3 separate regions of the Homo sapiens genome follow, and all the other regions are reported to be linked to region 2. The links are microRNA targets in miRTarBase. Many come from high-throughput screens and were not tested one by one. Region 2 holds a microRNA gene; each other region holds the end of a gene's coding sequence.
Evidence for each region. Region 2 holds the annotated microRNA hsa-miR-4529-3p (AUUGGACUGCUGAUGGCCCGU, at 1,531-1,551, opposite strand). A microRNA usually pairs through its seed, bases 2 to 8, with sites in the 3' UTR of a target mRNA and lowers its output. Matches are read on the target gene's strand: a 7mer-m8 pairs with bases 2 to 8, a 7mer-A1 pairs with bases 2 to 7 and ends in A, and an 8mer does both.

Region 1 (3,619 bases), not on the chromosome of region 2:
CTCACTCTGTTACCCAGGCTGGAGTGCAGTGGCTCACTCTTGGCTCACTGCAACCTCCTCCCTTTCGACTCAATTCTCCTGCCTCATCATCCTGAGTAGTGGAGACCACAGGCACACACTACCATGCCCGGCTATTATTTTTGTATTTTAGGTAGAGATGGGGTTTCGCCATGTTGCCCAGGCTGGTCTCAAACTCCTGACCTCAAGTAATCTGCCCACCCCAGCCTCCCAAAGTGCTGGAATTACAGGCGTTAGCCACTGCGCCTGGCCAAAATGTACATTGATTTAAAGTTTACTAAAGTAAATTTATCTTTTGAGGTCTTTTAAAAATTAGGCTGTTTCTCAAAGAACTTAAAATAGAGCTACCATTTGACCCAGTAATCCCATTACTGGGTATATACTCAAAGGAAAATAGATCATTATATCAAAAGACACATGCACTCGTGTGCTCACCACCACACTATTCACAATAGCAAATGCATGGGATCAACCTGGGTGCCCATAAATAGGTAGATTGCATAAATAAAATGCGGTACATATACACCACGGAATTATATGCAGCCATAAAAAACAATGGAATTATGTCCTTTGCAACAACATGGATGGAGTTGGAGGCCATAATCCTAAGTGAATTAATGTAGTAACAGAAAACCAAATACCAGATGTTCTCATTTACAAGCAGGGATTAAATAGCACAAATGGACATAAATGTAGAAACAATAGACACTGGAAACTACTAGATGGGGGAGGGAGGGAGGAGGGCACGGGTGAAAAAACTACCTATTGGGTACTAGAATCACTATCTGAGTGCAATATATTCATGTAACAAACCAGCACTTGTACCCCCGTAGCTAAAATAAAACTCGAGAAAAAAATTAAGGTTGTGTAAAATGAAAATAATAATATAATTAAGATCATTATATCTACTATCTATGCCTAGAAATTTTTTTGAGTAAATAACATCCTCAACTTTTTTGAGTAGATATCAGCCTCAGCATTGTATTAAACTTTCAACTAGAGAGACTTATTCCATTATCTTGGATATTTTGGATGTTTTTGCACTTAGATTAATGTGCTACATAGACCCAAACATTTAGCAATTACATCTAAATTAATGGAATTAGGTACTTGGACATCACATTTAAAGGGTGTTTCTTTAACTAGCTCAAGATTATATTTTTAGTTATAACCACAGCTGGGGCTAGAACCTTATATAATATGAGTCACTATCAGTGTTTTTTTCTCATCACCATGCTACACTTCACTGTCCATGCTTGTGCCATCATTCAGCAAGTATTTACTAATTGCCTGTTGTGTGTCAGGCTCCATGCTATTTCCAGATGATACCACAGCAAACAAGTTCAAATCTGAACTTTCAGGAAATTAGCAGTCAAGCTACCACACATCCTTGCCACTGTTCAAGTTTTTATATAACATAACTCTTATTTTTCAAATGACATCAAGCTTAAAAAACCCAACAACCTTCTCCTTTACACCAGGGAAATATGGTAGCAAGTGTTAGACATTTTGATGTAGAGAGTAACAGGCATGGTGAGATATTCACACCCACAGGAAAGAGCTGTAGCGGGCAAGGCCCTCTGAGAGCTCACTAGATATCACCAACAAAAGCCAGATTGATAGCAGAAGAGGTATAGAGATTTGTTTAAGGGGTGTATTTGGGAGCCTTCAGAATGAAGACCCAAAGATACAGGGGAAATTGTGCATTTTATGCCTAGGTTTAAGGAAGTATGGATAGAGGCTCAGAAATAGGATTGGACAAAAAGGGTATAAACTAATACTAATGAACTGAGTGGGGAAACACAGAAAGGCCTGTATGTCTAGATTATTCTTGGCTTCTTTGAGCAGCATTCTTCCTTCTGGGTGTGGGGCAGGGACCCCTCTGAAATGGGGGCCTTCTGACCTACAGTCAGTTTCTTTATGGCTAGTTTTTACACGGAAAAGCGGAGTGAAAATGAGAGTAATATTTTTAGCTTTTTTTTTTTTTTTTTTTTTTTTTTAAGATGGAGTCTTGCTCTGTCACCCAGGCTGGAGTGCACTGGTGTGATCTGGGCTCACTGCAAGCTCCGCCTCCTGGGTTCACGCCATTCTCCTACCTCAGTCTCCTGAGTAGCTGGGACTACAGGTGCGTGCCACCACGCCCGGCTAATTTTTTTTTTTTTTTTGTATTTTTAGTAGAGACGGGGTTTCACCACGTTAGCCAGGATGGTCTCAATCTCCTGACCTCGTGATCCACCCACCTCGGCCTCCCAAAGTTCTGGGATTACAGGCGTGAGCCAACGCGCCTGGCCATATTTTTAGGTTTTATTGCTGGCTTTGGGGAAAATATGGTTTAGTTTCTATGACACACCTTGGGGAAGAAGGATTCTAGTTTCTATAGCTAGCCTTGGGGGAGAATGAGACTGAGAGACAGGAGGGTAGGAGAAGATTAGAGAAAGACTTTTGCTCCTGAGGTCTTCATTTTGGGGTACTGTTTTCCAAGCTCCAAAAGAGCAAAATTACAGTTGATCATTTTGTAAACAGCTTTTCCAGGACAAACTCATCCACATCAACTGCCTAAGGGAGTTTATGCCACTTTCCCCTAAGTTCCCTACTGTGGTCCTACTAATCATAGGTATGGCACTCAAAAAGTGTAAGTCTGGCCTGATTCCACATGACACCATATCAGAGAGTTGAAGAAAGACAGTATGATCTCTCCTGAGGCTTTTGCTTCTCTGAGTTCAGTGTTCTCAATATATCGTCCATTTGCTTCACCAGATCCATTCTCCACTCTACTTTGTGCTGCTAAAAATCTACTCATATAAACCATGGACTGTATTAATAAGCTGTCTTGTTCTATGGCTTCGGGTTAGTTTTAGTGAATGGTAGGTCCCTGCAGATCACTGGAGAAGGAGGAAAATGAAATCAGAATATTTATTTATCTGGCTCCTTCCTTGGAGAATTTCTGTAATTTCTGAAATTTCGATTTCATTTCTTGACCTAGATGATCGCTTTTTCTCTAGGTCTTCATCCTCCTGTGAAGATCCTTCAGGTAATTCTACGTCTTTATCCTCCTGTGAAGATCCTTCAGGTAAGTCTAGGTCTTCATCCTGCTTTGAAGATCCTTCAGGTAAGCCTAGGTCTTCATTCTGCTTTGAAGATCCTTCAGGTAAGTCTAGGTCTTCATCCTGCTTTGAAGATCCTTCAGCTGAGTCTAGGCCTTCAGGTAAGTCTAGGTCTTCATCCTGCTTTGAAGATCCTTCAGCTGAGTCTAGGCCTTCGTCCTCCTCCTCTTGGACTGGATTGATGGAGTTCTCTCAGGACTGGTCATTCTCCAGTTGATTTGAATGTATTTTCTTAGCTTTCCTGTAGCAAAACGCTAATACTGTTGAATATTCTGACGTTTTCATCTTTTTCAAACTCGGTTCGGGGGCTAAGTCCCTGTTTGGTGTCTCCTGCATCTGTTAAGAAAACAGGGAGAGGCCAGAAAGACATTATTTTGGGTGAATAGGATAGAGACTGGATAGCAAGGGGGGCTTTATGAGAAGGAATGCAGGTGGAGGAAGGGGTGTGTGCCAGAGAAGAACAAGGTTGAATCATAGGGTAGGGATCTATGGGGAAG
Region 2 (3,000 bases):
ATAAGCCACCACGCCTGGCCTATGCCAGATTTTGTACAAAGTAAAATCAATCCTTGTCCCCCACCACTGTGATACTAGGGTTTGTTTGATTTTAGTGACATCTGTATTAGGGTTGACACAGAATTAATAACTGAATCAATAAAGAGACCGGGAACAGGGCCACGCCTTACACAAGGTGACATGAAAAATGTTGAGGTGTAGCAGTTTATTCCCTTAGGTTAATCATGAACCTTTCTGTTAGGCCCCTTTGAAATTTAGTATCACTCTGTCCTAAATCACCAGTACCTTGCAAGTGTTGATTCTAGCCCATATAACTCACCTTTCTCAAAAATTCTGCTATGTTTGTTTTAGTAACCAAATACTGTATTTTATTTTCGTAAGATTTTCTTCCCAATCTAGATTATATATTTCAGAGAGAAAGCGTCCTATTTTATGTACATTTTGTATCCTTTTGGTGTCAAATATCATGCTATGACCATAACAGTAAGTGTAATACACATAATATCCTCCCCCCGCCCCCCCGCTTTTTTTTTTTTTTTTTTTTGGAGTTCCTACTGTGTTCCAGGTTCCATGGTAACATTTTCCTTGTTATCTGTAATCATCACAACAGTACTGGAGGGTAAATACGGTCATTCCCATTTTACAGATGAGGATACATTCAATGTGAGATGTTAAAGATGTTCTTCAGAATTTCCCAGGTAGCAGGCAGCTCATGGTATTCAAAAGGTAATGGTTAAGAGAAAGAATGGATAATGAATATCTTGTGTCTATTTTCTTGAGACAGACGAGACTGAGCAGCCTGAGAACATTTGGTGCTCAGAGGGAGGAAATGCTAAGAGGGGAAAACAAGTCTGAAAGGGAAAGAAGGATAGTTCAAAGACCAGTTTCCCCTGCTTCAGAATTCTGACTGGTGCCAGCTCTAACTGCGTATGTTTGCTTTACTTGGAAGATAGAATCATAGTGCCAGAATTCACGGAAGTCTGTTTTGGAAGATGCATTAGTCAGGGTATGCTAATTGCTGGAACAAACAATCCCCAAACTTCAGTAGCTTAACACTGCAGAGGGTTATTACCCTCCGGTGTCACAGAGCAACGTGGGTGGGCTCTGGTCCTAGCCTGGCTTCTTCCATGGCTCAGGTCTGCTATCCCCTAGGACCTTGGAGTTCACTAGATATTGGCATCAGGCTGATCAAAGAGGAAAAGGAGAGTGGTGCATAGACGATTACATGGGAAATTTTAAGGGCCAGGTCTGGACAAGGCAAGTATTACTTCTGCTCACATTTTATTGGCCAAATCCTAGTCATATGATCCCATGACTGCAAAGGAAGATGGGGAATTTCAGATTCCTAGGTGGTCACGGGCAGAAAGAGATGGGGATTGGTGAAAACATAGCCTGGCTTTAGCCACAGAGGGTTACACCAGAGGCCTGCAAGTTTGGTGACCACTAGTTTTCAGAGGTATTGGGTATTTGATAAAATCCAGTGTCTTCCAGAGGTTGAGCATGAGCCACATATAAATAACTTTCCCAGTGACGGGCCATCAGCAGTCCAATGAAGACATTGGGTCTTCATGTCTTCATTGGACTGCTGATGGCCTGTCATTGGGGAAGTTATTTACCTTCTCTGAGGAGAAAATAATAACTTGCATTTCAGAGTGGTTTGGGACACTAAAGGAAATCAGAAGATGGAACTGATTTGTTAACTAGAAATGGACATAAGTATTGGTTACAGGTTTAAAATGAAACTTGCAATGTTTGAGGAAGAAAGGGAAAATGTTAATGCAAAAACAAAAAAGGTAAAGAAATGGTGGGAAGTAGATTATTGGCACTTTTTCTTTGGAAACCCATTGCCATATTTCATGTAATTAAACTTCATTCCTTTTAATGAAACAATTCTTCTAAATAATACAGAGATTTCCCACCAATATAATATTTAACATTTATAATTTTCACCTTAAAGTTTGAACATTTTTAATTTTAAAACTGTTTGTTGCAGTTTAAATCTCCTTATGCCACAGAACTGTGGACTTTCTCTGGTTGCAAAATTCTTTACAGTGTCTTGAATTGAAAAGGGCTTAAGTAAAAAAAGCTGGGGGAAGTGGGGGCCTTTTACAAACAAATTACAACTCATTTGGTACAATAAGGATAATTCATTTTGTCTTGTTTTGCATGGCTGTATATTGTTTTGAATTCATTCTGCATTTCGGAAGCTTGCAGTATTTCTTTTCTGTAGGTTTCTTACTTGTAACTGCAGATTTCGCGGTTTCTTTTGTGTACCACTTGCCTCCCAGAATTTGGCCCAACAGTTTTGAGTAGCTGAACAATTTATCGGGGACAGATCAGCTGAAATGTGGCTCAACTTGAGTAAAGCAGAAGGAATGACATAAGGTTAGGTGACTGATGTGTGAGTTTTTGAATTTGATTTGGTTTTACATGGAAAGGTTGAAGCAATGATCCATGTATTCTAATAAAAATCATCAGTACAAATCAAATAAAATCTGGCTTAGTGGCTATTTTCCCACTGTATCACTCATGGCTAGCCTGTGCTGTTACAGACCACATTTGGCAGGCACGGCTTTTTCCTACAACAAATCTTAAAGTAACATTGCAATCTTTGCTGTGTTAAAAAGGCATCTTTTCTAATCAAACTGTCTGCTAATCTCATCAGATAAATCATTATTCTCTACTGACAGCTCCGGCTTTCCCGGAACCCCTTCCCTGCTTCTTGTTTTCTCTCAAGATGTCTGGTTATCGTCATTCTTCAGGTCTTTGCCTCTATCTCCTTTCACACTAATGACATATCTTCCATTCCTGAGGAAGAGTTACAGCTTTTTACCATTCCACTTACTGAATTGGTAAGACCAGTACCTCAGAGCAGCTCATCTCTTTCTGACCGGTATTCCACTAGTTATCAGATGGGCAAAAGGCAGGATGCATCCAAGTTGCAGACCTACTAGAACCAAAAATGCCTATTCCCAGGAATTTGATGTGATTAAACCTAAG
Region 3 (3,619 bases), not on the chromosome of region 2:
ACTACAGTCAACATAATGAATCCCTTAAGTGTGAACGTCTAAAGGCCCAGAAGATCAGAAGGCGCCCAGAATCTTGTCATGGCTTCCATCCTGAGGTAAGTCTGAGAACTGTTCCTGTTTCCTTTTCCCATCAGAATCACCACGAGAGTCTCACACTGGTCAAAGAACTACAGCTGAAAAGTTCACTCATGAGAAAATAATCCCTTTCATTCAGTAAACTGAATCTGCACCATCATCTAGGTCCCAGAAGACTTCGTTCTTACGTTAGAGAGGGGGAGAGAGGTCTGGGGAAAGTTGAAGGTGTCCTGGAGTCTATTTCCGTCTAACCAACCCCTGCCTTTCCCCATAGGAGAATGCAAGGGAGTGTGGGGGTGCGCCGAGTCTCCAAGCCCAGACAGTCCTCCTTCTGCTCCCTCTGCTTTTGATGCTCTTCTCAAGGTGACACTGACTGAGATGTTCTCTTACTGACTGAGATGTTCTCTTGGCATGCTAAATCATGGATAAACTGTGAACCAAAATATGGTGCAACATACGAGACATGAATATAGTCCAACCATCAGCATCTCATCATGATTTTAAACTGTGCGTGATATAAACTCTTAAAGATATGTTGACAAAAAGTTATCTATCATCTTTTTACTTTGCCAGTCATGCAAATGTGAGTTTGCCACATGATAATCACCCTTCATCAGAAATGGGACCGCAAGTGGTAGGCAGTGTCCCTTCTGCTTGAAACCTATTGAAACCAATTTAAAACTGTGTACTTTTTAAATAAAGTATATTAAAATCATAATCTCCGTGTTTGGATTTTATCATCACTTTATTGCTAAGAACACCAACTGAAAACAATGCATGGGGGAAAAGGTCCCCATTCCAGAAACCAGGAAATGATGGCTGTTGGCAGAGCCTTTGTTCTAAAGCAGATTCTAGGCACATATTTAACAACTGTTTTTAGATGCTTCACTCACTCTCAGTTATAAAAATATTTATAGAAGTATATCAAAATATCATCTACATGGGAAGAGTTTATTACATAGAACCGTGAATTTTGTTGAACTAAACTTCAATGAAAATCATAATTTGGATGCAAACACAAGCTTTCATCATATTCAAGTGGTGAATTATTTGGGAATAGAAATAAAGAAGTCATAAATCCTAGGAATTCGGTCTGAGGAGACTTGAAGGAGGAAAAGAACAATGATTACAAATTTGGCTTCTGGCTTTCCCCATAAACAAGATATGAAATTAGATCTCAAGTATGATGAGATGAAACTACCCAGACATGTAAGCAAGCATTTCTAAACGCTGGCTCTTGACCCAAAGAAAACAGATTTCACTGGATCATGGTTACTAAATAAAGTGAAATAATTTCCATGCCTAGGCAGAGTAGAGAATGCCTTACTTTATAGGACAGACGACATCTAAAAGTTATCCAGAGAATCCTACTTACTTACTTAAACTCTTTTAAAAAGGGGCACATTATCCTCTTGATATTTTAGAAAAACTGATGTCACTGTACTGCTTTATACTAAAATGATTCCACTACATTGTTTGTTGTTTGTTGTTATAACTTTTAAAATTAAATTACTATGCCTCCAGTGCTGTTTGTTTGTTCTCAACATCACAATACTGTAACAGGCAAACTTGCCAAACTTTCAACAGCCATGGAGCTATAGAATTGTGACAATTGATGTTACTCACTCTGTGCACTTGGTAAATGAATAAATTCATTTGTTGCTCATACAAATATAAAGATAGATATATTACATTTACACTGACACATTGATATCAGATAAGGAGCCACAATTTATTAAGCTGGAATGATTGATGATAAGACTCTAAACCCATAAAGTTACAAGTATAAAGACATTCTATTTACAAGTATAAAGACATTCTATTTATACCTAAGGTGATGACCAGAGGAAAATTGAGCTTAATACTGAGAGAGATGAATTTATCACAGATCTAGGTGATTTATAGGAAAATTATTTAGGTGATTTTAAAAGAGAGCAAGTTAGATGATTTATAAGAGAGAAATCATATTTTAATTAATTTTTAACAAAAATAACATCACATAACCTATGATTCTCCATTACAGTTCTTAAAAACTGGCAACAATAAGTCAAGCATATTATGTTATAATGCCCATAATTTAATGCAAATGATGCAAAATACATGTAATATAATTACGTATAATTCCACTCCCAGTCTCATTCTAAACGATGGAGTCATTTTTGTTAAACTGTTTATGGCATAAATATAGCATCCTTGAGTCACACTGCACCTCATGCCCTTGTCACGATTACATTCATGTAACTGACCCACCAGGCACCTCTGATTCGCTGTTCTCACAACAGCTTCAAGCAACTGGACCCTGTTTGTTTGTCTACTTTGAAATTGAATAATTTTCTCCAACTTAATGTGTCCTAAGCACAACTCACGATCCCCCTCCATTAAACTTTTTTCTTCCCACTGACGCAACTCCAACCCCAAACCTTGGGGCCACCCAATTTGCTCTTTCCCCCGCAACCCACCTTGCAGCAAGTCTCACGAGCTGTGCCCTTCAAACACCAAACCTGACCATCACTTTTCCCAGCCCCTCACTGCTGCCATCCTCTTCCCAGTCACCACCCCCGTCCCTGGTCTCTGAAGACCTATGTCCTCATTAGTCTCCTCTCTTCCACTGTCAGCGACCACCCAGTCCCACTCCACAGTCCGTTCTCCACACAACAACCAGAGCAGTTTTTCGGAAACAAATATCTGATCCTAGCCTTGCCCAGTACAATTAAAACAACATACACATCCCTTACTGTAGTCCACAGCAGGGGTTCTCTGAGTCTTCTGTGTGTTCGAATCACTCAGGGACCTTTCAAAAAATCTCTGGGGCAGGCCGGCCATGGTGGCTTATGCCTGTAATCCCAGCACTTTGGGAGGCTAAGGTGGGCGGATCACCTGAGATCAGGAGTTGGAGACTAGCCTGGCCAACGTGATGAAACCCTGTCTCTACTAAAAATACAAAAATTAGCCGGGCATGGTGGCAGGTGCCTGTAATCCCAGCTACTCGGAAGGCTGAGGCAGGAGAATCGCTTGAACCCGGGAGGAGGAGGTTGCAGTGAGCCAAGATCGCGCCACTGCACTCCAGCCTGGGCGACAGAGCGAGACTCCATCTCAAACAAACGAAAACTCTGGGGCAGAACCCAGGCATTTTAGTTTTTGTTAAAACTCCCCAGGTGATGTTAATATGAAGCCAGGTTGGCATCCGCTGAGCTGTGGGACCTACAGGGACTCGGCTAGACTCTGCCTCCCTTTCCCACACCATCCTGTGCTGCTCTGCCCCAGACCCGCTGTGCTCCATGGCTCTGCCTCCAAGCCTTTGAAAATGCCAGGCATGGTGCCCACTCAGGGCTTTTGTTTTTCATGTGCCTTCTGCCTGGAGGGCTCTGGACCCTGGTCTTCATGTGGCTGCTCCTTCCCAACATCCACGCTCCCTTCAAAAATTCCTTCCTCAGAGACCCCTGGTACAGCTGCTCTTCTCCCCTAGCCCCACTCCTCTGGTTTTACTTTTCCTTTACATCAGTATCTGGAATCATTTTATTTTCAGTTTCACCTACTGTATTCC

Region 1: the mRNA of SPANXN1 is a reported target of hsa-miR-4529-3p. Seed matches in the 3' UTR shown: 7mer-m8 at 3,291-3,297.
Region 3: miRTarBase lists CACNA2D3 as a target of hsa-miR-4529-3p. Seed matches in the 3' UTR shown: 7mer-m8 at 547-553.

What each region holds. Positions count from the first base shown.
Region 1 is chrX:145,255,510-145,259,128 of GRCh38, reverse strand. SPANXN1 (SPANX family member N1) reads right to left here. Exons shown (of 2, transcript NM_001009614.3): 2 at 2,921-3,458. The coding sequence ends at 3,315. Among named protein-coding and RNA genes, the nearest start is that of SPANXN1, 9.8 kb to the right of the region's middle.
Region 2 is chr18:55,477,821-55,480,820 of GRCh38, reverse strand. MIR4529 (microRNA 4529) reads right to left here and starts at 1,600; the gene lies at 1,523-1,600. The region is part of intron 3 of TCF4 (transcription factor 4); the gene reads left to right. The region is part of intron 1 of TCF4-AS1 (TCF4 antisense RNA 1); the gene reads right to left.
Region 3 is chr3:55,073,765-55,077,383 of GRCh38, forward strand. It overlaps CACNA2D3 (calcium voltage-gated channel auxiliary subunit alpha2delta 3), which reads left to right. Exons shown (of 38, transcript NM_018398.3): 37 at 13-95; 38 at 350-793. The coding sequence ends at 442. Among named protein-coding and RNA genes, the nearest start is that of LINC02017, 100 kb to the right of the region's middle.